4 linked regions of the Homo sapiens genome follow. The protein of the gene in region 3 interacts with the protein of the main gene of each other region in a pairwise test. Each region holds a gene or a part of one and is shown on either strand. Other genes may lie near its edges.

The links.
Region 1: the proteins of UQCRB (region 3) and LARP4B interact in binary tests that used the Homo sapiens proteins (3 or more experiments, as listed by UniProt).
Region 2: the proteins of UQCRB (region 3) and ZSWIM7 interact in binary tests that used the Homo sapiens proteins (3 or more experiments, as listed by UniProt).
Region 4: the proteins of UQCRB (region 3) and THAP3 interact in binary tests that used the Homo sapiens proteins (3 or more experiments, as listed by UniProt).

What each region holds. Positions count from the first base shown.
Region 1 is NC_000010.11:928,204-936,755, forward strand, and holds the start of LARP4B (la-related protein 4B), read right to left. Parts: upstream 3,503-8,552; 5' UTR 3,225-3,502; intron 462-3,224; exon of another isoform or gene 1-461. Other genes in the region: keratinocyte proline-rich protein-like, read left to right, coding at 3,924-4,628. UniProt on the Homo sapiens protein: Stimulates mRNA translation.
Region 2 is NC_000017.11:15,975,179-15,983,428, reverse strand, and holds the end of ZSWIM7 (zinc finger SWIM domain-containing protein 7), read left to right. Parts: intron 1-2,284; coding exon 2,285-2,389; intron 2,390-5,265; coding exon 5,266-5,382; 3' UTR 5,383-6,869; downstream 6,870-8,250. Other genes in the region: ADORA2B (adenosine receptor A2b), read right to left, coding at 8,087-8,250. UniProt on the Homo sapiens protein: Involved in early stages of the homologous recombination repair (HRR) pathway of double-stranded DNA breaks arising during DNA replication or induced by DNA-damaging agents. Required for meiotic progression, hence for fertility.
Region 3 is NC_000008.11:96,221,666-96,226,369, forward strand, and holds the end of UQCRB (cytochrome b-c1 complex subunit 7), read right to left. Parts: 3' UTR 1,282-4,704; downstream 1-1,281. UniProt on the Homo sapiens protein: Component of the ubiquinol-cytochrome c oxidoreductase, a multisubunit transmembrane complex that is part of the mitochondrial electron transport chain which drives oxidative phosphorylation.
Region 4 is NC_000001.11:6,626,929-6,634,728, reverse strand, and holds the end of THAP3 (THAP domain-containing protein 3), read right to left. Parts: intron 6,231-7,800; coding exon 6,038-6,230; intron 5,087-6,037; coding exon of another isoform or gene 5,005-5,086; intron 4,442-5,004; coding exon 4,376-4,441; intron 2,360-4,375; coding exon of another isoform or gene 2,339-2,359; coding exon 2,234-2,338; intron 1,934-2,233; coding exon 1,652-1,933; 3' UTR 1,167-1,651; downstream 1-1,166. UniProt on the Homo sapiens protein: Component of a THAP1/THAP3-HCFC1-OGT complex that is required for the regulation of the transcriptional activity of RRM1.

The sequences.
Region 1 (8,552 bases), on a different chromosome or scaffold from region 3:
AAGAGTGAAAGTCCGCCTCAGGAAAGAAAAAAAAAAAAAAACTTGTACCTTTAACACTAGGATAAAAACAAATGAAATCGATTGATGGTAACACATCTATACAGCTTTTTTACAACTTTGAGAGGCCCTAACATAGACAACACGTTACTAAGATTAGAAGACCTAGATTATAATCCTAGCTATCACTATTTTGACGGAAAATATGAATTTTAACATGACAATGAAATAACAGTGAAAGGAGTTTGTCAGCCACTCCTTGGCTGGTAACATCTACCATAGCCTATCACTACAAAAACTTGCAAATCTATGTAGAGTAGCTGCAGCTACCTGAAGGCACTGTTCATTGTAAACACCATTAACAATTTGATGTCCCAATTTGCATGTTTTGGGGGTGGGGGGAGACAAGGTCTCACTGTTGTCCAGGATGGAGTGCAGTGGCAGGATCATGGCTCACTGCAGCCTCAACCTCCCAAGCTCAAGCGATCTTCCCACTTCAGCTTCTCCAACAGCTGGACTACAGGTGTGAGCCACCATGCCTGGCTAATTTTTTGATTTTTTGGTAGAGATGAGGTCTCTCTATGTTGCCCAGGCTGGTGAACTCCTGGGCTCCTAAACTCACCTAGGCCTCCCAAAGTGCTGGGATTACAGGAATGAGCCACCTCACCCAGCCTGCACGTATTTTAGAACTACATTTTAAGATAATGTGAAGACTGCTTCATAAAAACACCTTAAATATATACTTGTCAAAACTTGTGCTTACTTATGGAAATTGCATTAAATTCAATAAATTCTTTAAATCTCACTTTTAAAAATGGCAATCTTCCCGAACATTAAACCAAATTACATTTCTCCCTGAATTTGCTGCCACTTAATTTCAGCTACTCTTCTACAGAATAGTACCCATGTTATCTTTTTTTCTGTCTGGTTCCTACTCAAAAAGAGTGGAACTGCTTTCTCCAAATATGCATTCTGTGCTCAGAAGCTGTTTTCTCTGCCCAGATACATGTGTAAACAAGCCAAAAAAAACAAAACAAAAAAACAAAAACAAAAACAAAACTTTCTGCTAATAGATTGACAGCTACAAGGTAGAATATTTTAAAAATTCAGTAAGCTGGGCGCAGTGGCTCACTCCTGTAATCCCAACACTTTGAGAGGCCAAGGCAGGTGGATCACTTGAGGCCAGGAGTTCGAGACCAGCCTGGGCAACATGCTGAAACCCCGTCTCTACTAAAAATACAAAAATTAGCCAGGTGTGGTGGCATGTGCCTGTAAATCCCAGCTACTCGGGGGGCTGAGGCAGGAGAATAACTTGAAGACCTAGGAGGTGGAGGTTGTAGTGAGTTGAGATCGTGTCACTGCACTCCATCCTGGGTGACAGAACAAGACTCCAACTCGGGGGGGGAAGAAAAAAATCAGTAATAGTGAAAATAGCAAAACCAGACAACATTTCCATGTTTGTGTTACAACAGTCCTAAGAAAATGAGATTATCATCATCCCCCTGTTACAATTGAGAAAATGTAGGCAACACGAGGGTAACTTCTAATGAATAAGCCATGCCTTTGTTTCATATAAATAAGTCAACTCAACTCACATTAACTTTTCAAAATACCGGATAAAATTTATTTCTAACCAATGCAAGTTTCAAAGATAAGTACACAAATTAAATTTATGATTAAATAATAAGCTTGTTAATCTGATGCCTTTCGGAACGCATTTCACTTAGCAAACCTCAATTAAGCTATTTCTTATATGGTTTGATTACAAAACTGCCTTTCAGCATATTAAATACAAGGAGAAAAAACTGAAAAGCCACAACGATTTCAACTTCTGTAAATTACCCTGACTGTAATGAGGGGCGCCAGGCAGGTTGGGGAAGTATGGAAATTGCACACTGCACACACCACCTGACCACCAAGAAAAAAGAGGACACCACTCTTCCCCACTGTGGTCTTCACAAACTACAACTCAGCACCTATTTCAAGTGCATTTAAATATTCAAACAACTGAAACTAAGAGAAAAAAACTTTCGAAAGGGAAAATAACTTGTCTGTCCCCTTCAATGTTCACCTTGGAGTTGCTCTCATCTCTAGAAAAAGGCCTCACGCATACTGTTTATACTTACAAACTCCACTGCCCTGTCAAGGAAAACCTTCCTGTTTTCTCAGTTATCCAAAACTTCAAACTTCCAATTTACTATTAAGACAAGTTATTGGGCATCCACTTAGAGAATCTCAAACGAAAGCCAGATAGGAGGTAGTTTTCTACAGCTAGGTTTCTCAAGTTTCATCTCAGCCAAGTTTTAAGAACGTTTTACGTAAAAATAAGGGGAAAAGCAAAATTACATTCGCATGAAGTTTCGACGCACAACGGCACTGAAACGGAAAGACTCTTCACGTTCCCAAGCGCACCCTGAGAGGCAGGTGCAGCAGCTTTCCGATGGCTTCTCTGCCGCCCATGTATCCCAGCCCCAAGACCAACACAGGCAATCTTCACATCTGACTTTATTTTTTTAACTCCTTCAGATCCACCTCTGCTCAAGTCTATCAACAGGAAAACAGGAGCGTTCCAAACACACACCGAGCAACAGGATCCCAACTTCCTGGTTCTAAAGGAATGCGATGCCCTGATGACCCGTCCCGCCCCGCACCCGCACGGCCGCCTATCCGGGCTCCGGCGGGACCGAGGAGCGAGTGGCAAGGCTGGCGCCGCACTGCGGGTGCCGGCGCCCGCCCGGCCTGGGGGCGCTCGCGGCCCGCGACCCCGGCCCCGCCCAGGCCCTGCCCGACCCCCGTCCTCGCCGGCCTTCGCCCAACCCCGGCCTCCCGACCCTGACCCCGGCCCGGTCTTCCGGGCACCCAGCTCCGTCGACTCCCGCCTCGCCTCAACGGGTCCTCCTAAGCCCCGGCCCCGGCCTTCCCCTGCCCCGGCCTCGGCCATCCTCAGCCCCAGTTTTCCCCTGCCCCGGCCCCGGTCCTCCTCAGCCCCGGCTTTTTCCTGGCCCTGACCCCGGTCCTCCTCAGCCCTGGCCCTTCCCGTGCCCTAGCCCCGGTCCTCCTCAACCCGGCCCCGGCCTTCCCCTGCCCCGGCCCCGGCCCCGGCCCAGGCCCGGCCCTGCCCGCCGCGGCCGCGTCCTCCGGGAAGATGGCGGCGCAGTGACAGGCGGCGCGGCGCGGGTCCGAGCTGGGCCGGGAGGGACGGCCCGCCGCGGCCCAGGGTGCCTCACCTGTCAGCGCCGCCGCCCCGCCCGACCGGCCGCCCGCGGGCTCCTCGCCTCAACCCCGGGGCCCGGCGGCCGCGCCACACGCGGGGACGGCGAGGAGAGAGACGGCAGGGAGAGGCGGCGCGGCCGGGCCGGGCCGGGCCGGAGGTAGGGGAGAGGGCGGGCGCGAGCTGGCGGCGGCGGCGGCGGCGGATTCTTCCCCTTTCGGGCCCGAAAATGTCTCAACCCCGGGACTCCAGATCCCCAACGCTCCTTCCCGTTCGCATGAGAACACACAGCTCCCACTTCCGGGGCCCTGCGGAAGTCCCGCCCCCGCGCGGACCCGCGCCTCGCGCCCTGAACTCGCGCACTCACCCGCCGGTCCCGCGGACTGGCGCTCAGCCCCGGGAGAGCCTCACGTCATGGTGTTGCGGCGCGCTGATTGGGCGCACCCGACGCTCGGCCCGCCCCGCCGCCTTCTTGGCCTCTCCGCGCGTACACCCTGCTCGCGGCCTTGCGATTGGCGCGTGCGCGCACATCGCCCCGCCCCGCGCACGCCGCACGTCCGCCCCGCCCGCCCCGCCCGCCCCGCCCGCCGTCCCCGGCGCGACCGGAGCGCCTGACGCTGGGGGGCCGTGTGGGCCCTGACTTCCGGAGGGCTGGGCCCTGGTCCTCCGCCACCGCGTGCGCCCCTTAAAGACCCCTGCCCGCCGCCCAGGACGGATGGCGACCCCGGCCCTAGCCTGTCCCCAGACCCTGGACCAAGGCCCCGGCCCTGCCCCGAACCCCTCATCCCACCCCCAGGACCCAGGCCCCGACCCTGGCCACCCAGGACACGCCCTGGCCCTTCCCCGAACTCCCACCCCACAGCTGGGATCAAGGTCCCGGCCCTGCCCGGAACACCTCACCCCACACCCGGGACCCAGGCCCCGGCCCTGCCCCGAACTCCCACCCCACACCCGGGACCAAGGCCCCGGCCCTGCCCCGAACCCCTCACCCCACCCCCGGGACCAAGGCCCCGGCCCTGCCCAGAACTCCCACCCCACACCCGGGACCAAGGCCCCGGCCCTGCCCAGAACTCCCACCCCACACCCGGGACCAAGGCCCCGGCCCTGCCCCGAAGGCCCCACCGGGGACCCAGGCCCCGGCCCTGCCCCAAACTCCCACCCCACACCCGGGACCAAGGCCCCGGCCCTGCCCCGAACGCCCCACCCGGGACCCAGGCCCCGGCCCTGCCCCAAACTCCCACCCCACACCCGGGACCAAGGCCCCGGCACTGCCCCGAACGCCCCACCAGGGACCCAGGCCCCAGCCCTGTCCCGAACTCCCGCCCCACACCTGAGACGAAGGTCCCGGCCCCGAAGTCCCAACCCCACACCCGGGACCAAGGCCCCGGCACTGCCCCGAACCCCCGCCCCACACCCCTAACCAAGGCCTCGGCTCAGCCCCGGAATCCCCAACCCCACACCTGGGATCAAGGCCCCGGCCCTTCCCCAAACCCCCAACCCACACCCGGGACCAAAAGGCCCCGGCCCCACGTTTCCTAGAGGCGCTGGGTTCGGGCCCACGTTGCAACGAGTCAGATGCTCTTGGTAGCTCAGGGAGGTGTTCACACTCCTGCCGTTTCCGTGAGGATGGTGACGACTCCGAACTATAGCAGCATACTCTACCTACCCCTGATCAGTTTATGGAAGAAAAGGAAACCAAACAAAGTATGTTGCGTTTCCCTTAAGCTTGCTGCCTGATTTTCTGGTTTCTGCTCTGATTGGCTACATATACACATATTATCAATTATTCCAAATTTTAGGTTTGTTCCCCCATTAAAACGGCTTTTCAGGGATACCATATTCATGGTTAACCGTGTACCTGTGCTTACAACTGCTTTTTTAATTTTGTTTTTTGATACAGGGTCTTGCTCTATGCAGGTCTGCACTCTGAGCTCAGAGTGCTGTCTCGGGCCCCCAAAATCTGGGATTAGAGATGGGAGCCGGTGTACCCAGCCTGTGCTTATAATTTTTCGTACTCAGCGTTCAAATGCTGACAATTCTGCATTTTGGAAGAAAGCCTCTCCGGCTTCCCATAGTGGGTAGACTGTTGACATCAAGGTTGGGTGCCTTCTTTGTGAAACCTTGTTGCATCCTAGCTTTAAGGGAATTTGCAAGTTAAATAATTATATTCATAGTAATGTTTTTAAAGAACATTTAACGACATAAGACACATTTCCTTTAATATTAAAAGCATGTACATATTTCAGAAAACTTGCTTACCTGGACAACCTGCCCTGACCAGTAGGCCATAGTGTCCTTGCTTAGGTGCCTGGTTCCTTTACCTCCACGGATAACCTACAGGAGCTTACTCTTGGTTCATAACATTGCTAGGGCCATTGATGTGGTATAAGTCTAGGAATTCTGCCCCAAAATTGGTAGGTTAAACTTTTTTTTTTTTTTGAGACTGACTCTCCCTCTGTCACCCCGGCTGGAGTGCCGTGGCATAATCTCGGCTCACTGCAACCTCAGTCTCCCGGGTTCAAGTGATTCTCCTGCCTCAGCCTCCGGAGTAGCTGAGACTACAGCCGCATGCCACCACGCCCAGCTAATTTTTTGTATTTTTAGTAGAGATGGGGTTTCACCGTGTTAGCCAGAATGGTCTTGATCTCCTGACCTCGTGATCCGCCTGCCTCAGCCTCCCTAAGTGCTGGGATTACAGGCGTGAGCCACCGTTCCCGGCTGGTAGGTTAAACTTCAATCTTTTTTGTCTATGTCTACATTCCAGCAGACATCTATGTCTTACCTATTACAAAAGAAAGTAATGGGATGGGTTCAGTGGCTCATGCCTGTAATCCCAGCACTTTAGGAGGCCAAGGCAGGCAGATCGCCCAAGGCCAAGAGTTCAAGACCAGTCTGGGCAATATGTCAAAGCCCCATTTCTTTAAAAAATTATACAAAAGTAGCCGGGCATGTGGTGCATGGCTGTGGTTCCAGCTACTCAGGAGGCTGAGGTGGGAGGATCGCTTGAGGTTGAGGCTGCAGTGAGCTGTGATTGTGCCACCGCATTCCAGCCTGGGTGACAGAGCGAGACCCTGTCTCAAAAAAAGAAAAAGAAAAAAACTAAAACTAAAAGAATTCCATCTCTTCTTTCTCTTCGTATTGTGTAATCCTTTCCAACAATCAGAACTGGGCTTTTTGTTCCCTCATGATCTTCTTTTTTTCAAACCTGTGTCTCAGAAGAAACATCCATTTTCACCTTGAGATGTGAGGTTATAACATGAAATACATTTTCATGGCATCTCTCCTTAGACAAGATCAGTTTTTTAAAACTTTAGTATAAATTTCTCAAACCATGATCAGATACACTCCCTCATTTCCCATGTCAAGTGGTTACAAATTCTGTCAATCCTACCTAAAAACTCTTTCCTTCTCCCCGTCCCCCCAGTGGTTTTGCCGTTGTTACTGCTCACCTGGTTTGATTCAGTGGCGTCGCGGTTGGTCTCTGCTACAGTCCATTACTCACAGTGCCAGCACATGTTTCCTTAAAAAGCTTCATCACCATCCTCCTGCAATGCGACCTTCACCGGCTCCCCGTTGCCTGCCCAGGAGGATAAAGTCCAAGTTCTCCTGTGGAAAGAAGACCCTTCACACGCTAGTCCCAGCCTGTCTTCAGCCCAGCCCCCTGTGTTTCCTTTCCTGCCTTATCCTAAGACATCCTTACCTTCCAATCACACTCACTTTCCGAGCATTTTTGAAGGTATTGAGGGAGTTGATGAGTCTACACTTGAATAAAATACAGACTTTACACTCCAGACTGCACAGTTGACAGGTAAGTCCACAGTTCATAGTGTGGACAGTCCTATACAAAGAAATGGAGAGGTGCCCCAGCTCCAGACGCTGCGCTGCTCTGGAAGTCGAGGGCGGCATTCTTTTGGAGCCTGAGCACTTAGGTCCTAATGGATGTGAGTCCCCTGGCCTCAAATGTGCTTCCTGTACTTGGATGTCTCCTTCTGGCGGAATCTCGCTTATTTTTCAAGTTACAGCCCAAATGTCAACCACTGAAGTGTTTTAGACAGTTGATTTTCCTTCTGGGCCCTATTATTAGCACTTGTTTGTAGCTCTGTTGAGCTACATCACATCATACAATTTTCAGCTGACACTACTGTCATCCCAAAGAAATGGTCAGGCCTCAAGGGCAGAGGCAGCGAGGGCAGTGATCTTGGGACAAAGTCTCTACCAAACAAATACAGCATGTGTATTTCTCTAGCAGAGGCCTACATTTCAAGTGGTGTCTGAGAACATTCTTTTCTTTTTCTTTTTTCTTTTCTTTTCTTTTTTTTTTTTTTTTTTTTGAGTCTCCCTCTGTCTCCCAGGCTGGAGTGCAGTGGCACAATCTTGGCTCACTGCAACCTGCGCCTACCGAGTTCAAGTGATTCTCCTGCCTCAGCCTCCCGAGTAGCTGGGATTACAGGGATGCACCATGATGCCCAGCTAATTTTTGTTGTTTTTTTTTTTTGTTTGTTTTTTGTTTTTAGTAGAGTCAGGGTTTCACCATGTTGGTCAGGCTGGTCTCGAACTCCTGACCTCAAGTAATCTACCTGCCTCCGCCTCCCAAAAATGCTGGGATTACAGGTGAACATTCTTTTATTTTATCCCGAAGCATTTTCTGTGAAAAAATAAACACTACTTCTCCAATGTGTAGCCGCATTGCTCAAAAATTCATTTTTGATGATTTAGGACTATTCCTTTGCCCATTGATTAAACAAATATTCACTGAGTACCTACGCGGTCTCAGGGACTGCTAATGTTGCAGAGATCAGGGGAGCATCACAGATGAGAAGCAGGTAACGAGGGATGGAGGGTGAGGATGAGGGATGGAGGGTGAGGTGAGGCTGTGTAGAGTGCTTGGGTGGCTCACAAGCGGGGTCCAAGCCAACTTAAGAAGGAACCAGAAAATGATGACTAAGCCGGGGCCAGAGACAAACCATCCACGAGAAGGACACAGGTGGGAAGAAGGAGGCAGTGAGTCACGATTTACTACGAGGCAGGCCAGACACAGTAGCTCAAACCTATAATCCCAGCATGTTGGGAGGCCGAGGCGGGTGTATCATCTAATGTCAGGAGTTCGAGACCAGCCTGGCCAACATGGTGAAACACCTGTCTCTAGCAAAAATACAAAAAAATTAGCTGGGCGTGGTGGCGGTCGCCTGTAGTCCCAGCTACTCGTGAGGCTGAGGCAGAAGAATTGCTTAAACCCAGGAGGCTGAGGTTGCAGTGAGCGAGATCGTGCCATTGCACTCCAGTCTGGGCAACAAGAGTGAAACTGTCCGCCCCCCAAAAAACAACAAAAAACCAGATTTACTAT
Region 2 (8,250 bases), on a different chromosome or scaffold from region 3:
GCAGTAGGTAATATGCAAGGTGTGCTTTTTCAACACCTAATTTGTAACTGGGTGGAAATCTTTTTTTTTTTTTTTTTTTTTTTTGAGACAGAGTCTTGCCCTGTCACCCAGGCTGGAGTACAGTGATGCAGTCTTGGCCCACTGCCACCTCTGTCTCCCGGGTTCAAGTGATTCTCCTGCCTCAGCCTCCTGAGTAGCTGGGATTACAGGCACCCGCCACCACACCTGGCTAATTTTTGTATTTTTAGTAGAGATGGGGTTTCACCATATTGACCAGGCTGGTCTTGAACTCCTGACCTCATGATCCACCCGCCTCAGCCTCCCAAAGTGCTGGGATTACAGACGTGAGCCACTATGCCCGGCCTGAACTGAAATCTTGAATGTGTTCAGTAGGCATCTTCTTACCCAATCATTGGCTATTTCTGGTAACCTAAAATCTCCCGAGGAATTCTGACTGCGTCAAAAAACCATACTGAGGCTGGGTGTGGTAGCTCATGCCTGTAATCCCAGTGCTTTGGGAGGCCAAGGTGGGAGGATCACTTAAGCCCAGCAGTTAAAGACCAGCCTGGACAACATAGCAAGACCCCATCTCTACAAAAAAAATTTTAAAATTAGCATAGGGTGGTGGCGCACACCAGTACTCCTACCTCCTCAGGAGACTGAAGTGGGAGGATCACTTTAGCCGAGGGATTCAAGACTGCAATGAGCTATGATCTGCCACTGTACTCCAGCCTGGATGACAGAACAACATCCTGTCTCCAAAAAACAAAAATTAAAAAAAAATGTTAATAAAAGCTGTACTGGGATAACTGCATTATATGAACCACTGAAAATGTGACAAAAGCACAGCAGTGGAACCTGCTGTTTGTTCTTGCAGTCAAACCATACCTGTAGCTTTATTCTCTGTGGGTAAGAAAGATTAAAGAATCCTAGGAGTGCTAACATTGTAATTCAAAAAAAATTTAAAAGTCCTTGCTTTTTCATTTAGATTGCCATCTGAGAGCCTAAAAGTGCTTTGAAGGCTGTGTGGCAAATTCCTAAGTGGCAGTTCATTATAAAATCACCCTCAGGACATTTCTGCTTCCCTCAGATACTAATAATAATCTTACGCCTCCAGGTGGGAAGTTAACTCTAGGAATGAAGACCTCAACAAAAAGTTTTTGGCTGCTTGGTGGTAGAGAGACTTAAACAAAGGATTTCTCCAGCAAATTTGTGCGATCATACTACAGATGTGTCTTGTTTCTCCTGTACCTCTCCTTTTTGTCCCTCTTGACCACCACCAAGACTGTTAGACTGTGCCTCTTATCAACCCACTATGTATCAGTGTCCTCCTTCCATCCTGCTAGATGAGTAGGCAGATCTGGGCCTGCCTCTTTTCCTGAGACCTCCATCCTGAACAGCTGAGTCATTCCTTTCGCAAGGGTCTTTGCTTTATTTATTCTCTCTGCTCTCAAATGCTTTTCAAAAGCCTCTTCCCAGTTTCTTCTTTTGTTCTTCTGTGACCTATCTTTATTTTAGAGATGGGATCTTTGTCACCCAGGCTGCAGTGCAGTGGTGCAGTCACAGCTCACTGCAGCCTTGACCTCCCAGGCTCAAGCAGTCCTCCCTTCTCAGCCTCCTGAGTAGCTGGGACTACTGGCATGTGCCACCATACCTGACTTTAAAAAAATTTTTTTTTCTATAGAAACGAGGTCTCACCATGTTGCCCATGCTGGTCTTGAACTCTGGGGGGGGTCAAGTGATCCTCCCACCTCGACCTCCCAAAGTGCTGGGATTACAGGCTTTGAGCCACCACACCCGGCCTGAGACTTATCTTACTCCTGCCCTGCTACTGACCCTTTGCCTGTTTTTACTCTCTCTTTAGGTATGTAGGAAGCTTTAGAAATTTATACACCTGCTGTGAAATACCAAAGGTTAAGAACCCCCACAATAAAATGTAGATGAGAGATTCCCCCCCCCCACTTCCTTCTTATTACAGTCAGCCCATAGAGTGGGCCCCATGAATCACTAGGCGTAGGAACAGAATGGTTTATGTGGTTGGTTGAACTAATCTGAAACTCTTCAGTTCCTTTATATGCTGTCCTAAAGGTGAGCACTGAGAGGTGAGGAAGGGAGAGTCTGTACACTGGAGGAAGAGAAGTTGTTTCCTCTTTTATGTAAAACATTACTGCAGTTCTTCTCGGTGCAATTTGCAGAGCAACTCTGAGTCTACATAAATAAAAAGGGAAAGAGGTGGTTTTTCCAGCACATCTGAGGTCTGATCCCATCTATCCTTTCTTTGTAGGTCCTTGGAAGTTCCAGTAAAACATACACATGTTTGGCTTCTTGTCATTACTGTTCATGTCCTGCATTTGCATTCTCAGTGCTACGGAAGAGTGACAGCATCCTGGTGAGGATGGGGAAGACTCTTCCCACTGTAGTTGAATGTAGAGAGAAATTGCCCTTACTTTGTGGTTTAACTATTCTACAAAATGGGAATCTTATTATATGTTGAAACAAATGGTAGTTTTTTGTCTTTGTCTTCAGTTAGTCACCTCTTAGGGGTTTAGCCTCTCAAAATGCAATGTCATTTTTAGAACTGCATCAATTTCCTGAATTTTTATGTAAAAGATCATGAGTGAAGCTTTGAGAAGGAAAAAAAGGGAATCCCAGAAGTGGGCACTGGGGAATTAGATGGCCCCATAAAAATATGAACTAAATTCGATGTTGACAACTTTGCATATCCTACTTTCAGCCATGTGGTATATCTTTGCACTACCTGTGAGACAGCCTGACACCACACTTGACCTTCACATGGGGCATGAGTACCTTCACCTATTCCTTTAAGCCTTTGCCAATTTCATCAGAGTCCAGACCATGAAGCAGAAACAGGACATACTCACACACACCTTATTCCAAAGGAAAAAACACTACCTTCCTGAAAGCAGGCAGCTGTTTTCTAAGTCTTGCGAAAGAAGAAAATAATGATGTCCACTCCATTCTTTCCCTTTCTTTTACACTGTTAACTTCTTAAACATCTTGGGACCTGGCTGGCAAGTTGGGTATAGCATTGTCCAAGAGGCCACATTCGTAACTGATGTGCCCTAAGTGTATCTCAACTGCAAGAGACAGGATTGAACCAAAACCCCTTCAAGATCTAAAGCTGTGTTCTCTGACATCAGATTCAACGCAATCATCTCCCCAGAGGTGTGTACAGGCCAATATATGCAAGAGTTTTGCCACTACTCCCCGCCCCCCAACCCCAGAAGTATAACACAGTAGTTAAGAGAGTAGCCTAGACCAGCCGCCTCGTCCGGGAGGTGAGGGGCGCCTCTGCCCGGCCGCCCCTACTGGGAAGTGAGGAGCCCCTCTGCCCGGCCAGCCGCCCCGTCCGGGAGGGAGGTGGGGGGGTCAGCCCCCCGCCCGGCCAGCCGCCTCGTCCGGGAGATGAGGGGCACCTCTGCCCGGCTGCCCCTACTGGGAAGTGAGGAGCCCCTCTGCCCGGCCAGCCGCCCCGTCCGGGAGGGAGGTGGGGGGTTCAGCCCCCCGTCCGGGAGGGAGGTGGGGGGGTCAGCCCCCCGCCCGGCCAGCCGCCCCGTCCGGGAGGGAGGTGGGGGGGTCAGCCCCCCGTCCGGGAGGGAGGTGGGGGGGTCAGCCCCCCGCCCGGCCAGCCGCCCCATCCGGGAGGTGAGGGGCGCCTCTGCCCAGCCGCCCCTACTGGGAAGTGAGGAGCCCCTCTGCCCGGCCAGCCGCCCCATTCGGGAGGGAGGTGGGGGGGGTCAGTCCTCCGCCCAGCCAGCCGCCCCGTCCGGGAGGGAGGTGGGGGGGTCAGCCCCCCGCCTGGCCAGCCGCCTCGTCCGGGAGGTGAGGGGCGCCTCTGCCCGGCCACCCCTACTGGGAAGTGAGGAGCCCCTCTGCCCGGCCACCACCCCGTCTGGGAGGTGTACCCAACAGCTCATTGAGAGCGGGCCATGATGACAATGGCGGTTTTGTGGAATAGAAAGCAGGGAAAGGTAGGGAAAAGATTGAGAAATTGGATGGTTGCTGTGTCTGTGTGGAAAGAAGTAGACATGGGAGACTTTCCATTTTGTTCTGTACTAAGAAAAATTCTTCTGCCTTGGGATCCTGTTGATCTGTGACCTTACCCCCAACCCTGTGCTCTCTGAAACATGTGCTGTGTCCACTCAGGGTTAAATGGATTAAGGGCGGTGCAAGATGTGCTTTGATAAACAGATGCTTGAAGGCAGCATGCTCGTTAAGAGTCATCACCACTCCCTAATCTCAAGTACCCAGGGACACAAACACTGCGGAAGGCCGCAGGGTCCTCTGCCTAGGAAAACCAGAGACCTTTGTTCACTTGTTTATCTGCTGACCTTCCCTCCACTATTGTCCTATGACCCTGCCAAATCCCCCTCTGTGAGAAACACCCAAGAATGATCAATAAAAATAAATAAATAAATAAATAAAACAAAAATTAAAATTAAAATTAAAAAAAAAAAAAAGAGAGAGTAGCCTAGAGACTCTGATGAGCATGTGGTTACAATACCTGTCTTCCTAGGGAGCTGTCAGATTTCAGTGAGATAATCTATGAGAAGCACTTCACAGCCTAGTGCCTCAAGGAATGTTAACCATTGCTGTGACAGCTTTCTGAAGGCAAGGAAGAAATATAACTTAGGACTAACGTGAGGAGTGCAGGTAGTCTGGGTTTTCACCATGGGTTACATACCTTGTGCCTGATGGATCTAAGCCATTTCCCAAAGCAGCAGGCAAAGTAAGTCTGTGTCCACTCTGATTTCTAAAGAGAATACTCCTGTCTCATCATCTTTATCTGCAGTTTTTATTTATTTATTTTTTGAGACAGTCTGGCTCTGTCACCCAGGCTGTAGTGCAGTGGCGTGATCTCGGCTCACTGCAACCTCCACCTCCTGGGTTCAAGCGATTCTCATGGCTCAGCCTCCTGAGTAGCTGGAATTACAGGCATGTACCGCCACACCCAGCTAATTTTTGTATTTTTAGTGGAGACAGGGTTTTGCCATATCAGCCAGACTGGTCTCGAACTCCTGATCTCAAGTGATCCATCCGCCTCAGCCTCCCAAAGTGCTGGGATGACAGGTGTGAGCCACCATGCCCGGCCCATCTGCACTTTTTAGACAATCAGTTAGAGACCCCGTAATCTGTATGCTCTAGTCTTCTCCTGCCAAATAAGATGGTAATGAGAAATCTTGGTTAGACTGGCCAGCCCTGGCCCTGCCTGTTTCTAATAGGTGTGTGTGTTTTATATTCCAGTGCAAGCATCTCTTGGCAGTTTACCTGAGTCAGGTTATGAGGACCTGTCAGCAGCTAAGTGTCTCTGACAAGCAGTTGACTGACATATTATTGATGGAGAAGAAACAAGAAGCATAAAAGGTACAGATTGAGCATCATTCTTTCAAAATAGAATCCTGTCAAGAAATGCATTGAAAGCGTCATGATTCACATGGAAAAGAGGTGAAATGGATCTTCAGACACTTCATGTTACTGTCCCTTTTCCCTCCAGGACTGCAGGAGGTGCTGTGGGTTGGAGCCGTGGGCTGTGGAGGGTTTGTGTATGATGAGAAGCCCTGTACAGTCTTGTCAAGAAATACCCTGAGCCAGTCTCTGAGACGCTTCGGTAAAAAATGTCCCTGGATGGAATCAAGATTTTAAATTCAAATAAAGCCTAATATCATGTTGTGTCCACATTATTTAGTCTTTTTTTTTTTCTTTTGAGATGGAGTCTCACTTTGTCGCCCAGGCTGGGGTGCAGTGGCGTGATCTCAGCTCACTGCAAGCTCCGCCTCCCGGGTTCACGCCATTCTCCTGCCTCAGCCTCCCGAGTAGCTGGGACTACAGGTACCCGCCACCATGCCCGGCTAAATTTTTGTATTTTTTTTTTAGTAGAGATGGGGTTTCACCGTGTTAGCCAGGATGGTCTCCATCTCCTGACCTAGTGGTCTGCCCGCCTCGACCTCCCAAAGTGCTGGAATTACATGCATGAGCCACTGCGCCTGACCCTATTTAGTCTTAAGTAACTAACTGAATTACTAGTAATTTTTAAAAGGTTGGAATGGTGGGCCAAACAGTAAGATGAAGTTTCGACGAGTAGGTCAGTTCTTTTCCTTGGGTCCAGGAAACTATTGAGCAGCAACAGAAGATCAGAGCAGAGATGTGGCTAAACAGTAGCAGGTATGAAAAGACTTAGAGGTTCTGGTTTCTGTAAGCTTCAAATATCTGTGATGCTTGTGCCAAAACAGCTTAAGTAGACTGTATTGTTTGAGAGTTAGTATCGAGAACAAGGGAAGAACTGGTTTCACTCTGCACTTCTGATCTTTACAACAGGGCAATTGAAGGAACAGACTAAAAATCGTGTCCTGGAAGGAAACTACAGGTACTACCAGGGATTTTCAGTCTGAAGAAGAAAAGACAAAATAGATGACAGAAGGAGTATTAGAAGGGAGAGCGATGAGACTCAGTTGGACACCGAGAGAGCAAAGAAGCAATAATACGTGAAGATGAAAATGAAATCAATTTCAGCATAAGAAGACAAGAACTTATGGTAAAGCTGCCCACAGCCAGAAGAGGATCCTAGAAGGACAGGAATTCCCTGTCTGCAGCATTTCATAAGCATGTAATATTGTTGCAGGGATACTGCAGAAGGAGTTGAAGCAGTGGACAGACAGATGATATAGGTGATTTTACAGCCTAAGAAAGCCCTGTGCTTGTGCCCCCAAAACATGAGGTGCTAGTGAATGAATGCTGGGGGAAAGCCCAGGGCCTAGGTGTTGCAATGTTCTGTGGTTGGCAGATGCTTTTTGTTTTGTTAAAAAGTGCAACAGATAAAATTTATCAATACTTTTCTGCTACTCAGGAAACTTGGACTCAGCATAACTTACTTTTTTTCCAGCAGCCTTCAGGGTAAAGTTTAGAAGGTAGATGCAACAAGCCAATGCAGCACCCTAAGCTTGTCTTTTTAAGTTTTATTTTTATTTAACCTAATATACACAGAGTTAAATAATTTTACTTCATAAAATTTTCACACTTTGAGTTCCAAGAACTTAACCAAACTTGAAATTTGGAGAGAAGCAAAATTCCCTATCTATCTATCTAGCTCTAGAAGGCAGAATTTGGTAGAGGAGGGATCCCATTTCACCAGTTTCTTCCCCACGGGTAGTTTTCTGTATATGGAAAAGAATGGAGCTTAAAATTATGTGATGAAAATTTGACTTATGAGACTATCAATCAATCATTTCCCTAAATTAATACAGCAGTTTCTTGATTGAATACTTTATTTATATATATATATATATATATATATATATATATATATATATATTTTTTTTTTTTTTTTTTTTTTTTTTTTTTTTCTGAGACAGAGTCTCACTCTGTCACCCAGGCTGGAGTACAGTGATGCCATCTGGGCTCACTGCAGCCTCCGCCTCCCAAGTTCACATGATTCTCCTGCCTCAGTCTCCTGAGTAGCTGGCACATGCCACATACCCAGCTAATTTTTGTATTTTTTAGTAGGGACGGGGTTTCACTATATTGGACAGGCTGGTTTTGAACTCCTGACCTCGTGATCCGCCTGCCTTGGCCTCCCAAAGTGCTGGAATTACAGGTGTGAGCCACCATGCCCGGCCGAATAATTATACTTTTAATTTTTGAGGTCACCTTCCTGGCAACAAGTATACATTTTTAGTACAGTCAACTTTTATTTTTCCATTGCCTCTAAGTTAAAAAGTATTTGCATTATAATAGTTCACACTGTTTCACAGTAAAATAGTTTCAGTAATTTTCCACCATAAACAAGGCAGACTTTTAAAAACAAAAGAGTCTGTTAGAATCCATTCAAGCTGTTGGCATAATCCACACAGTAAAAGCAGCTGAATAGATCATAAATATATTTGTCAATCCTTGGAGCCTACTACTGACACATACATATTAGCTAGATACGTGGTAGCTCCAGGGAAGTGCTCAAGAGAGGCAGTCCATTTCCTTGTGAGGTGTAGCTATCTTTCACAATGAAAACCAGCCGTGTCCTCTTTGTTTCTTGTGGATTTGTATCTTCTCCTGGAAGAGGCGAGAGCCTAGATCATAGGCCCACACCGAGAGCAGGCTGTACCCCAGCCTGACCATTCCCACTCTTGACATCTGCTTGGCAGAGAAGATACCTGGAGATAATTTTGTGAAAAGTGTAGCGGAAGTCTCGGTTCCGGTAAGCATAGACAATGGGATTGACAACTGAATTGGCATGTG
Region 3 (4,704 bases):
CTACTTGCCTTATAATCATATTTCACTGTTAAAAACCCTCCAGGGCCTACAGTTGCATTTGAGTAAAATTTAAACTCCTTCTTCTGGTCTAAAATGCCCTCCATGGGGTGGCTGTGCCTACCTTTCTGACCCGAGGGTTGGCACTCTTCCTTCTCCATTTGGATTCAGCACAGTGGCCTTCTCTGTCAACTCCTTCTCAGCCACCCCCAGCTCATTCCTACCACAGGCCCTTTGCACTCACTGTCCTCTTTGCCAAGAATGTTCTTTTCTAGATCAATGTTTATCAGCTTCAATTACACATTAGGACCATCTGCATCCCAGGCTGCTTCCCAAACCAATTAATGTGGAAACTCTGGCGGTCAGACCCAGGCATCAGGTTATTTGGGGTTTGTTTGCTTGTTTGTTTTGAAGCTTCCCAGGTGATTCTCTGCACAGCCCACCTAAAGAACCAGGGCTTCCTGCGGTGGCTCCTCTCCAACGTTCAAATGTCATCTCCTCAGAGACAGCATGATCACTCTACTTTCACAACTAAAGATTTCATTTAAGAAATAGAGTTTAGAAAGAAAAGTATAAACAAAAGATGAGTACAAAATGGAATTGAGTTTGTAAAAATAAAGGTAAGTGTGGGACAGCATTGTTGAAAAGACAAAATAAAAAATAAAATAACCTGATTAAAGCATGGGCAAAGGACCTGAATAGACATCTTCCTAAAGAAGACATGAAAATGGCCAAAAGGTACGTGAAAAGGTGCTCATTATCACTAATCATCAGGGAAATGCAAATTAAAACCACAAAGAAATATCCTTTTACACCTATGAGGGTAACTACTATGAAAATGACAGGAGATAACAAGTGTTGGTGAGGGTGTAGAGAAAAGACAGTGCTTGTGCACTGTTGGTGGGAATGTAGATTCATGCAGCCATTATGGAAAACAGTATGGACATTCTTCAAAAAATTAAAAGTAGAACTACCATGCAATCCAGCAATCCCAGTTCTGGATATATACCTCCAAAAAATGAAACCACCATCTCAGAAGGCATCTGTGCCCACATGTTCGATGCAGCATTATTCACAATAGTAAAGACATGGAAACAACCAGTGTCTGCCAACAGATGAATGAAAAAATTGTCACACACACACACACACACACACACACACACACACACACACAATGGTATGTTATTAAGCCTTAAAAAATAATAAGATACTGCCATTTGTGACAACATGGATGACCTGGAAGACATTATGCTAACTGAAATAAGCCAGACACAGAAAGAGAAATACTGCATGATCTTATTTATTTGTGCAATCTAAAACATGTCAAATACATAGAAACAGAGAAGAATGGTGGTTTCCAGAGTGGGAAGGATCAGGAAATGGGGAGAGGTAGGTCAAAGGATACACAAACTTGCAATTATACAAGATGAACAGGTCTAGAGATTTCATGTACAGCATGGTGACTATAATTATATTGTACACTAAAAATTTGCTGAAAGTGTAGATTTTAGGTGCTCACCAGACACACATACACAAAGTACTATCGTGGTAATGGATATTTTAATTTGCTTGCCTGTAGTAATCATTTCACTATGTATATTTGTATCAAAACATCATGCTGTACACCTTAAATAAAAAAGAAAAGACAACATAGCAATTTCAAGGAAGACAGAATTTAACTTTCCATTTGCTCACTTGCAAAGTGTGATCTTGTACCCGTTACCTAACATGTCTGAGCCTCTATGAAAAGAGGATAATTGTGCTCACCTTGGAAAAATTTTCAAGGAATAAATGAAACCTGAAATGGCCCACAGTGAACACTAGGTAAATAGTATTTATTATTGTTAAATAGTAAATGATTGGTTGAAGTAGTAAGTGCTTTACAAAGTCAAAGAAAATAGAAATGTCAAGTGCCTGGGGTTGACAAAGAGCTTCTCTCAGTAGGCAGAATTTAATTTTTGTCTTAAAGTAAAGCTAGAATTTAGACAGAGTATGGTGAGGATTGCAAGTGCCATTGCAGGGGACTGAGAATAGAAGGAAAAAAGGTTAGAGGTAGAATTTTGCAGAATGTGTTTGGGGAAGAGGGAGTTAAAACAGGAGGAAAGAGAACACAATGTTTTCAGAATGGACAAACCTTCTGTTTTCTATCATATGGCATCTTTTTAGCACTGGCATTTACCTGCATTAAATTGTGTAGAAGAGTAAGTCTCTGATTGGAAGCAGATCTATCATGGGTAGAGGCAGACAGGTGGGGGTGGTAGAAGCCAGGCTTTGGAAGGCCACTCCCTTCAACTGGAACTAGTGTGGTCTCCTGGAGTCTGACTCTGGGGCATGAGTTAGCTTACCTCAAAGAAGCAAGCTTTGGTTTTCCAGGAACTGACCACAAACCAGTTCCAAGTAGCAGCACTTGGTGCTCTCATGGGGCAACCTAGCCATTCTCAAGGGCAGCCCAGTTCTGTGTGAGTCAGAGTCCTGGCAGGAAAGTGTGGCACACCCAATCAGGCAAACCAAAGAATGTCCAATGAAGGGACAATTAACAAACGGCAGGCAAGGTCAAGGAGAACCAACTTTGATAGAGATAGCAGAGTGGGGAGGGATGGAAGGGAGAGCTGTAGGAATCTTGAGAGGGGCTGCCTGACAGGAGCTGTAGCTTTCTTCAGAGGAACGTGGGCTGGGGAATAAATATCTCTGTCTCTCTCATCTGCCCTCTCTTGCAGGTGGCCACCCTCCCCACACTGGCTGGCCAAGCCCAAGCCAGAAGCCAGAAGGCAAAAGTGTCTATTTGTGCAGTCTTTACATCAATTTATCTCTCCTGGGGTACAGAGCTGAATCCAGAAGGGACAAGAGTAGATTTAGAATATGCAGCACAGCCAACGTCTCACAGAATGAGAAGCCACAGAAGGGGCTGATTACCAGGCTGCATCACCCTCAACAGACCCGTGTTTGTGGAGCCCCTCCGGACCTCTCTCTTTTACCCTTCCTCACATCCACCTCTTACACATCTAACTGATATCCAGTCAGGCCAACTGGACTTCTTAGTATCTCTCAAAAATATACTCTGCTCACACCATATCCCTAAACTCCAGAGGGATTGAAGATTTATGGTTTTGTTTCTTATACCTAAAAGTACTGGATGAAACCTTGCTGGATATTTATGAAAACTTGGAGTAAAGAGAGGACTTCTCAAAGCATGACCTCAGAGGCAAAACCACAGAGGAGAGGACTGAGAGTTTGTACTACATAAAAATCAGAAACTTCCATTTGACAAAACCCACCATGAACAAAGTTGAAAAGGCATCCAAAAAACCTCAAATAAAATTCAAACGATGAAATAAAAATATCATTTCAGCAAATGTAAGTAAAAGGGGTACTATCTAAACATATAAAGGTCTCATACAAATAGATAAGAACTGACCCAGGTTTGGGAAGGGGGAAGAGGGAGCTAAGAGGAAAACTAAACAAATAAGGAAAAGGCTGTGAAAATTAAAAATAGGCCCATAGGTGAAGGACATGAACAAGATTGATGAAAGAGAAATAACAACTTGATAATAGCATATGGAAAAACGTCTAGCTACTCAATCCAAGAAATGCAAGTTTAAACAAGAAACTCTCCAACCAAATTCACAAAGATTGCTTTTAATGAGAGCACTCAGTGCAGGCAGGAATGCAATAAAGGGACCCTCGTGATTGCTTAGATGAATATAAATTATTATAAACTTTTGAAAAGCAAATTGGAAGTCCAGTATTGAAAAACTTCAAATATTCATCCCCTTTGCCCCAACATTTTCACTTCCCAGAATCTATCCAAACACTCTGCTGCTCACAGGATGAAGTCCAGGCATCTCAATATGGCGTACACCTTTCAGGTTGCATCTCCCATGTCTCTCCAGCTGATATTTGCCACTCCATCAGTGCAAAACTGCCTGTCCTTCCCTAGACATACATCCTGCACTTCCATGCCTTTGAGCATTTCCTGCTCATTTTCTTCTGCTTGGAAAGCCCTTCACCATCTTCTTGGCTTAGCTAACTTTGCTTACTGTTCTGGAATCAGCCACATTATCAGAGGCCCTGATTCCCATCCAGGTTTAGTTAGTTTACCTTCTCCATGTTTCCATAGTACCCAGTACATATTTTTTGTGGACAATTCACACAGTATGTACATCTATGTTTACATATTCATGCATCTGATTACATACCTGTCTCTACCATCTTGGTTTTTCTCTGTATTCCCTACACTGGTGGTTTTTAGCTGGGAGCAATTCTGCTCCCCCAGGGGAACATTTCCAGACAATGTCTCAAAACATTTTTGGTTGTTACAGTTGGAGGCAGGAGGCGCTACTGGTACCTATCGTGTAGAAGCCAGGATGCTGCTAAATATCCTGTAACACACAGAGGAGGCCCCCACAACAAAGAATTATCTAGCCCCAGATTTCAACAGTGACGAGGCTGCTATATTCTTCCTAGCTTCTGCCTAGCCTGGAACATAAACACATACATCAATTTAAAAAATCCAGAAAATTATGTAATGAACAAGCATAAAATGGACTTTCGAAGCCTAATTTCTTCTTCCATACAATGGGCATTATAATAGCCATGCCAGAAGGTTGCAGGGAGGATTAAAAGAGACAACATACGAACAGTGCCTAGTACAAAGCTAGTATTCCATCAGTATTAGTTCATCCCAACAATAAAGAGCGTAAGTTAAAT
Region 4 (7,800 bases), on a different chromosome or scaffold from region 3:
CCTGTGCTCCGGAGCCTTCCTTCAGACCCTTCCTCCACGTGCCCACTTGGGATGCAGAATGCAGCGGAGCTAGGACCCCCTCCACGGCCTGGACCTCGGCTGCAGTAAAGTTACGTGAGGCCTGTCTCTCGGGGCCTGGAAGTGGCAGCCATCAGTTGCTCTTGCTGACCCCTCGGAGCAAGCGCCGCACAGGTGGTGGCTGAGACAGCTGGCGCGGGGGGCCCCAAGCTGCGCCGGCCTCCAGCCCACCCACAGCTGTTGCTGAAGTCAGGCCTCCCTCCCCAGCACTGGTATCTGAGTAACGGCTAAGAACCTCCTTCCTCTGGTTTTGAAAAGCAGTTCGGGTTGTCCAATTCTGTAACATTCATCTCCATTTTTTAAAAAGGTTTCTCTGACGGCCCCACGGCCCGAGCCGCGGTGAGCGTCGTGTTGCATGAGCCTGGGCCCCGGGCTTCCCGTGCGCCTCTGCCGCAGGTGCTTCTGGGCACCCATCCTCTGCGTTTCATTTGCAGTCGACTGTACAGAAGGCACTCACCACAATAAACCTTTCCTGAAAGCAGAGGCTGGCGCTCTTCCGTGTATTGTGTGTTCATCTTCAGGAGGGAGGGAACCCCTTCCCCAGAGGCCTCCTCCCCATCCTTCACTCCTCACTCAACCACAAGGCTTCACGTGAAGCTGGGGTTCCATTTTCTACATTAAACAACATTGCCTGAGAAATAAATAGACCCCAAGTTAGGAAATCAGGCTAGAACTTTTTTCTTTAATTCACTAAAGCTATAAATTAGACAAAATAGGAAGTCAGTTTTTTTTTTCAGACTGAGTCTCGCTCTGTCACCCAGTGACAATACTAGAGGGCAGTGGTGTGATCTCGGCTCACTGCAACCTCCACCTCCCGGGTTCAGCTGATCCTCCTGTCTCAGCCTCCCAGGTAGCTGGGACTACAGGTGTGTGCCACCACGCCTGGCTAATTTGTGTCTTTTTTAGTAGACATGGGATTTCACCATGTTGGCCAGGCTGGTCTTGAACTCCTGACCTCAAGTGATCTCCCCACCTCGGCCTCTCAAAGTGCTGGGATTACAGGCATGAGCCACTGCGCCCGGCCACGGAAGTCAGTCTTCTTAGAAGGAATCACGGCACTAGAGAAAATGATGATGGGAGCGACACCGTATAGAAAGACACTTTATTACACTGCCCACTCACACCAGGCCGGGACAGGAGTCACTCCTTAGAACCCCGAGCGGCTGTCCAGGCTGATGGAGGAGGGGACCACTCACCCGCCACAGAGCCAGCCCCCTCACATGGCTTCCTCCCTGAGGAGCATCTCCCACACTGGGGCTTCCAACGATCTTTGCTCTGCGTGTGCTGAAAGGACAGCGTCCAGAATCAGCCTCAGCCTGGACTTCTGTTACCATGGGAGGATAAGCTTGTCATGCTCACAGATGTGCACTCCTAGTGCCACGCCTCTAAACGTCCCCCAGACGGCATTGGGGCTCTCGCCGGGGAGCTTGGCTACTGTCTCGATCCCCGGCCAAGCAGGCCTCATGGCCAACTTTCTCAGTGTCCACAGCAGACAAAAATGTCCACAGCCAGAGCTCCAAAGCTCTGCCGGCCCTGGTGCCACTGCCACCTCTGCGTCCGGAGCCTGTGGGGCTCAGCTCTGCTGCTCTGGCCCAAGTCTGGCCTGGAGTCCCTGGTGCCCTTTGCAAGCACGGAGGCGGCTGGACATCCTTCGCATCACCAGCCTCTGGGCCTGCAAGCGCTTCCGGAGCTTTTCATTTTCCTTCAGAGTGAGGAAGAGTTTTTTCTTCAGGGAATCTAAGTCCAAAAGGGCATAGCTGTGATCAGATGGCTGCTTGTTGGGGGTCCTTCTCAGGCCTGCAGGGCCAGTCGGCCGGCCAACAGCCTCTGTTGCTTGCGGCCTCCGTGGCGAGACCTGAGGACAGGGGAGTGAGAGCCTAGAGCTGCATCACCAGCAGGAAGGCGGGCCATGGTGAGCAGGCCACCAGACACGCACACAGCACAACCCCAGGGCAGCTAGACACTCCGGGCTGCTCCCCCAAAATCCAGATGTGCCCACACCATGGTGGAGAATTTGACTGGGGAGCTCTGAAACCCAGGCTGCACACCCTGCCTCGGCCACACAGGTCTCATGGTGGGTGCTCACTGGTTTCCATTTTGTTTGGAGCAAGTCATCTTGTGTCCAACCACAGACCACCTTTGCACTCAGTCTTACCTGTTTTACGTGGCCTTCGGCATTTGGGGGCAACTGAAGCTCTTCAAGTGCAGTGTCCATGTTTCTCCCAGGACTGTCCTCTCCGGCCCCCGCCTCAGGGAGGACCTGGGAACGGCAGGGTGAAGTCTGCACTACAGCCCTGCACATGCAGGGCCCTCCTGCAGCTGCTACTTGTCCCTCTAGGGGAGTGGCAACAGCCAGGGACCAGCTCCAGGGTCTGTGCCCCTCCACAGCCAGCTTCTCCCTAGCACACACCCTGGAACTGAACTTTTTTTTTTTTTTGAGACAGTCTCGCTCTGTCACTTAGGCTGGAGTGCAGTGGTGCAATCTCGGCTCACTGCAACCTCCACCCCCAGGGTTCAGGTGATTCTCGTGCCTCAGCCTCCTGAGTAGCTAGAATTACAAGCATGTGCCACCACGCCTGGCTAAATTTTTTTTTTTTTTTTTTTGAGACGGAATCTAACTCTGTCACCCAGGCTGGAGTGCAGTGGCATGATCTCGGCTCACTGCAACCTCTGCCTCCCGGGTTCAACCAATTCTGCCTCAGCCTCCTGAGTAGCTGGGACTACAGGCACATGCCACTACACCTGGCTAATTTTTTTTTTTCTTGAGATGGAGTTTCACTCTTTCACCCAGGCTGGAGTGAAGTGGTGCGATCTCAGCTCACTGCAACCTCCGCCCCCTGGGTTCAAGTGATTCTCCTCCAGAGTAGCTGGGATTATAGGCATCCACCACCATGCCCAGCTAAATTTTTGTATTTTTAGTAGAGACGGGGTTTCGCCAGGCTGGTCTCGAACTCCTGACCTCAGGCAATCCACCTGCCGCAGCCTGCCAAAGTGCTAGGATTACAGGTGTGAGCCACCAGGCCCAGCCGAATTTTTGTATTTTTAGTAGAGATGGAGTTTCACCATGTTGGCCAGGCTGGTTTCGAACTCCTAACCTCAGGTGATCCGCCTGCCTCGGCCTCCCAAAGTGCTGGGAATACAGACGCAAGCCACTGCGCCCAGCCCGGCTAATTTTTATATTTTTAGTAGAGATGGGGTTTTTACTATGTTGGCCAGGCTGGTCTCAAACTCCTAGCCTCAAGACATCCACCCGCCTCAGCCTCCCAAACTGCTGGGATTATAAGCGTGAGCCACCTCGCCCGGCCCTGGAACTGAACTTTAAGAAATCAGGCACGGCCAGGTGCGGTGGCTCCCGCCTATAATTCCAGCACTTTGTGGGGCCAAGGCAGGAGAATCCCCTGAATCCAAGAGTTTGAGACCAGACTGGGCAAGATAGCAAGACCCCCATTTCTAAAAAAAAAAAAAAAAAAAATTTTTAATTAGCTGGGCATGGTAGCACATGCTTGTGGTCCCAGCCACTTGGGAGGCTCAGGTGGGAGGATGGCTTGATCCTGGGAGGTTGAGGCTGCTGCGAGCCATGACTGCACCACTGTACAGAGCCTGAGCAACAGAGTGAGACCCTGTCTCAAAAACAAAGAAAAAGGTTGGGTGCAGTGACTCACATCTATACTCCCAGCACTTTGGGAGACTGAGGTGGGAGGATGGCTTGAGCCCGGTAGTTTGAGACCAGCCTGAGTAAAATAGCAAGATGCTATCTCTACAAAAAAAAAAAAGTGGGGGCCCAGGCGCGGTGGCTCACACCTATAATCCCAGCACTTTGTGAGGCAGAGGTGGGTGGATCACCTGAGGTCAGGAGTTCGAGACCAGCCTGGCCAACGTGGTAAAACCCCGTCTCTATTTCAAAACACAAAAATTAGCCGGGCGTGGTAGCGGGCATCTGTAATCCCAGCTACTCGGGAGGCTGAGGCAAGAGAATCACTTGAACCTGGAAGAGGTTGCAGTGCGCCGAGATCATGCCACTGCACTCCAGACTGGGTGACAGAGCGAGACTCAGTCTCAAAAAAAAGAAAAGAAAAAGGGAATCAGGCACGATCCCTACTAGCAACTGAGATTCTTTGATATTGAAAAGAAGGAAGCTGAGAGGCTTGGGCCTTCCCTCCAGAAAAACCGGGAATCCAAACTGGCATATGAGGAAAGGCGACAGCCCTGCGGGCCGGCCTTGCTGGGAAAATCCCACCTCCCTGTCTCAACCCACAGCATAATTTAAACATTCAAGTACCTGGCCCGGTGCACTCACCTTTTCTTTCTGAGAAGAGCTGGCATTTCCTCTCTCACTGGCAGGGTCTGTGTTCTCCCTCACCTGCTACAAGAGACACACACAGAGTGGATGCAGACCCCAAGAACCCTCAGAGCTCGGGGCAGGCCTCGGGCATCATGCTTGTCCCCGCTGCTCGGCCCACTGCATGCCCCAGTCAACGAACAGCTGCTAAATGAAACTGACCTGAAGCTCAGCCCAACTCACACTGCCCGCTTGGTGCGCTTCTCTTTCTCCAAAGATGTCCTCAAATCATGGTCAGAGTGCCCTGAATAGGTCCCTGTAGAGCTAGGGACCCATCTACTTCCTATGTGTCACCCCAGGGCCTGGCACCTGGCCCCATGACCGCCAGCAAGCAGCAGAAGCGCAGCTCACCACTCGAGGTGCCACTGACCCAGAACCTGCAGCCCCTGGGCCACACTGGGGTGGGGCCCACAAAGCAGAGCTGGCAGAGGCCGTACCCAGCTTCTCCCCACCAACCAGGCACTGGAAGCACCGAGGGCTACAGTGACAAACGTCCCCACTCCCAGTGGCTCAAGTGTCATCTTTCCAGGACAAACGTTATCACAAATACGTGAAGGTGATTAAAGTGTTCATCTATGGACACATACCCCGAGCACCTGGGCTGTGCCAGGCAGCGTCCTGGGTGTGGGGCCTGAAGCAGGGAAGGCAGCCCCTGCCCTCATGGAGATTCTGTTCCAGGGGAGAAGACAAAACCAATGAGGGAAACAGGAAGGACAGCAGGGGCCACAGGGGCCAGGAAGACTGAGGGGCAGGAAGGGGTCGGAGGCAAGAGGGGGTTTGAGGGTCCAGAAGGGCTTCCTGAAGGAAGGGACTGCCAACCTGAAGAGGTTCAGGCAGACTGCATGAGGCTATCTGGGAAGGGTGCTGGGGAGGACAGATGGGGCAGGGGCTCCCAGGCGGCCGCTCTGGGCGTGTTTGCTACGTGGCCGCTTTGTTCTTCCCATCGGCTCCACTCTCCACTCACGGATCCCTTTCCTCTCCCCATAAATCCACCAATGCAGGGAGCTGCTGGCCTGTGGCTTGTCCCGCCACTGCCCTGCCTGCCCACTCCACGTGGGTGCCCCTGTGGCCTATCATGCGATCTCAAGGCTTCAGCATCCAACTCTTTGTGAGCCCTCTCCTGAGCCAGGCCCACACATCCCACCTCCACCAAGGCAAGCTTGGCTCACTGCAACCTCTGCCTCCCGGTTCAAGAGATTCTCCTGCTTCAGCCTCCCAAGTAGCTGGGATTACAGGTGCCCACCAACACACCCAGCTGATTTTTGTATTTTTAGTAGAAATGGGGTTTCAACATGTTGGCTGGGCTGGTATCGAATTCCTGACCTCAGGTGATCCACCCACCTCTGCCTCCCAAAGTGCTGGGATTACAGACGTGAGCCACCGCACCCAGCCATAGAATAATTCATTTTTAAAATGCCTTTAATTTATGACTTCTCTTAAAGCCGAGGTCATGGCCAGCAGGGCCACAGGGCTGTGGACCCCAGAGGCGTGACAGTGCTGTTGTCACTGGAGTTCTTGGCCTTGGCTTTTCCCACACATGCCGCCACCCCCACTGCCCCCAGCTGCTGGTAAACAACGCAGGCTGGATGTGACCAGACGGAAGGTGCAGTGCCCTCCTACCTGTGTGGGGTCCTGAAAGGCGAACACCGTGGGCACGGCATTGTGCTTTAGGTTCTTGCGGTTTCCAAAGGCGCTGAAGCACTCTGGCCGGAAGTGCTCGGAGCAGATGACCGTGTGCTGCTTGGGCTTGAAGTTGCCCCGGCCGATGTTCAGCACCCATTCCTTCAGCAGCTCCGGGCGGCTGAACGGAAACCTAAGGGCAGAGGCACGGGGTGTGAGGCCCAGCAAGGCTGGACCCAGCGCCTCAGAGTCATTCGGAATTTTCACATCACTACAGAGTACTTCCCTGGACAGCTGTGGACATTCAGTCCTCTCGGTTTATTAAATCACATCTAATTTCTGGAAGCTTCTGTCACAGCTGTTAAAGCACTCTTAATAGGAAACCCGAGACCACGAGCATGGCCAGAGAGCCCAAGTGAGCTGCTTCCGATGCTACATTTGCCAGGAGCCTACCAGGAGCCGGGCCCTGTTCTTCGTGCTAGGGATGGGGGGTAATGAGACAGTCCTGGCCCCCAAGAGCTGATATTCTGGAGCGGGGGCACAGTGATGAGCCACACAGATGTGGACGGTGTCTTCTGGGGATGACAGCTGCTCCAGAGAACAGACAGAGGGAAGCCCTGGGGTGGTGAGGAGAGGCAGCTGAAGGGGTGATGTTTGAGCACAGACCGCAGGAAGTGGCAGCACAAGCGACGCAGGCTTCAGAAGGGACAGCAGGAACGGCCACTCACGCAGGTCCAGCTGAGACAGCGAGAGGGAGTGGGGACTGCATGACGCAGGGCCCTGAGCAGCTGGGGAGTCCCTGGAGGCTCTAGACAGAGGTGAGATGGAACCTGGGTCCACCCTGGCTGCTGTGGGACCAGGCATTGGCAGGAAGTGGTAATGAGAGGGCAGACTTGGATGTATTTTGAAAGCCATGCAGTAAGGTTTGCCTGTAGATGGTAAAATTGAGAAGGAAGGAGTTTCATGTTGGAGATAAAATTAAGTTACAGGACGGCAGGTTAAGGGGATCAGAAGTTTGTTTTGTAGCAGCTGAGCATGGTGGCTCACGCCTGTAATCCCAGCACTTTGGGAGGCCAAGGCAGACAGACTGCCTCAACTCAGGAGTTCAAGACCAGCCTGGCCAACATGGTGAAACCCCATCTCTACTAAAGATGCAAAAATTAGCCCAGCGTGGTGGCGCACTCCTGTGATCCCAGCTACTTGGGAGGCTGAGGCACAAGAATCACCTGAACCAGGGAGGCAGAGGCTGCAGTGAGCCGAGACTGCGCCACTGCACTCCACCTGGGCAACAGAGTGAGAGTCTGTCTCCAAAAAAAGAAGTTTGTTTTTTATGTCAGGAGTTAAATTTGAGGTGCTTTTTAGGCTCTCCATGTGCTGGGGTGACAGGCGGCCACACGCATCTGGAGATGTCAGTGTGGCGGCCAACCCTGCGGAACCGATAAGCCTGGGTGAGATGGGCCCCTGGGGAGCAAGTGTGGCTAGAAGCCACCCCTGGGCCATGGCCCACACCCCAGGGCTCCAACACTTAGTGCTGGAAATAAGGAGGATCCAGCAAAGGAGACTGAGAAGAGACACCTGTGGCCAAGAAGTGTACCAGACGCCATGCGGGAAAAGTGACCCAGGCTCAGGGGTCAGTTGTGTGAAATGCTATGCAATCGATCAGTGTCACAAGGCTCACTAGTGATGTGACAGAGCTCTCGTGGGAGTGGAGGAAACGACTTCAAGAGAGAAGGCGCAGCAACTCCATCCCCAAGTACATACCT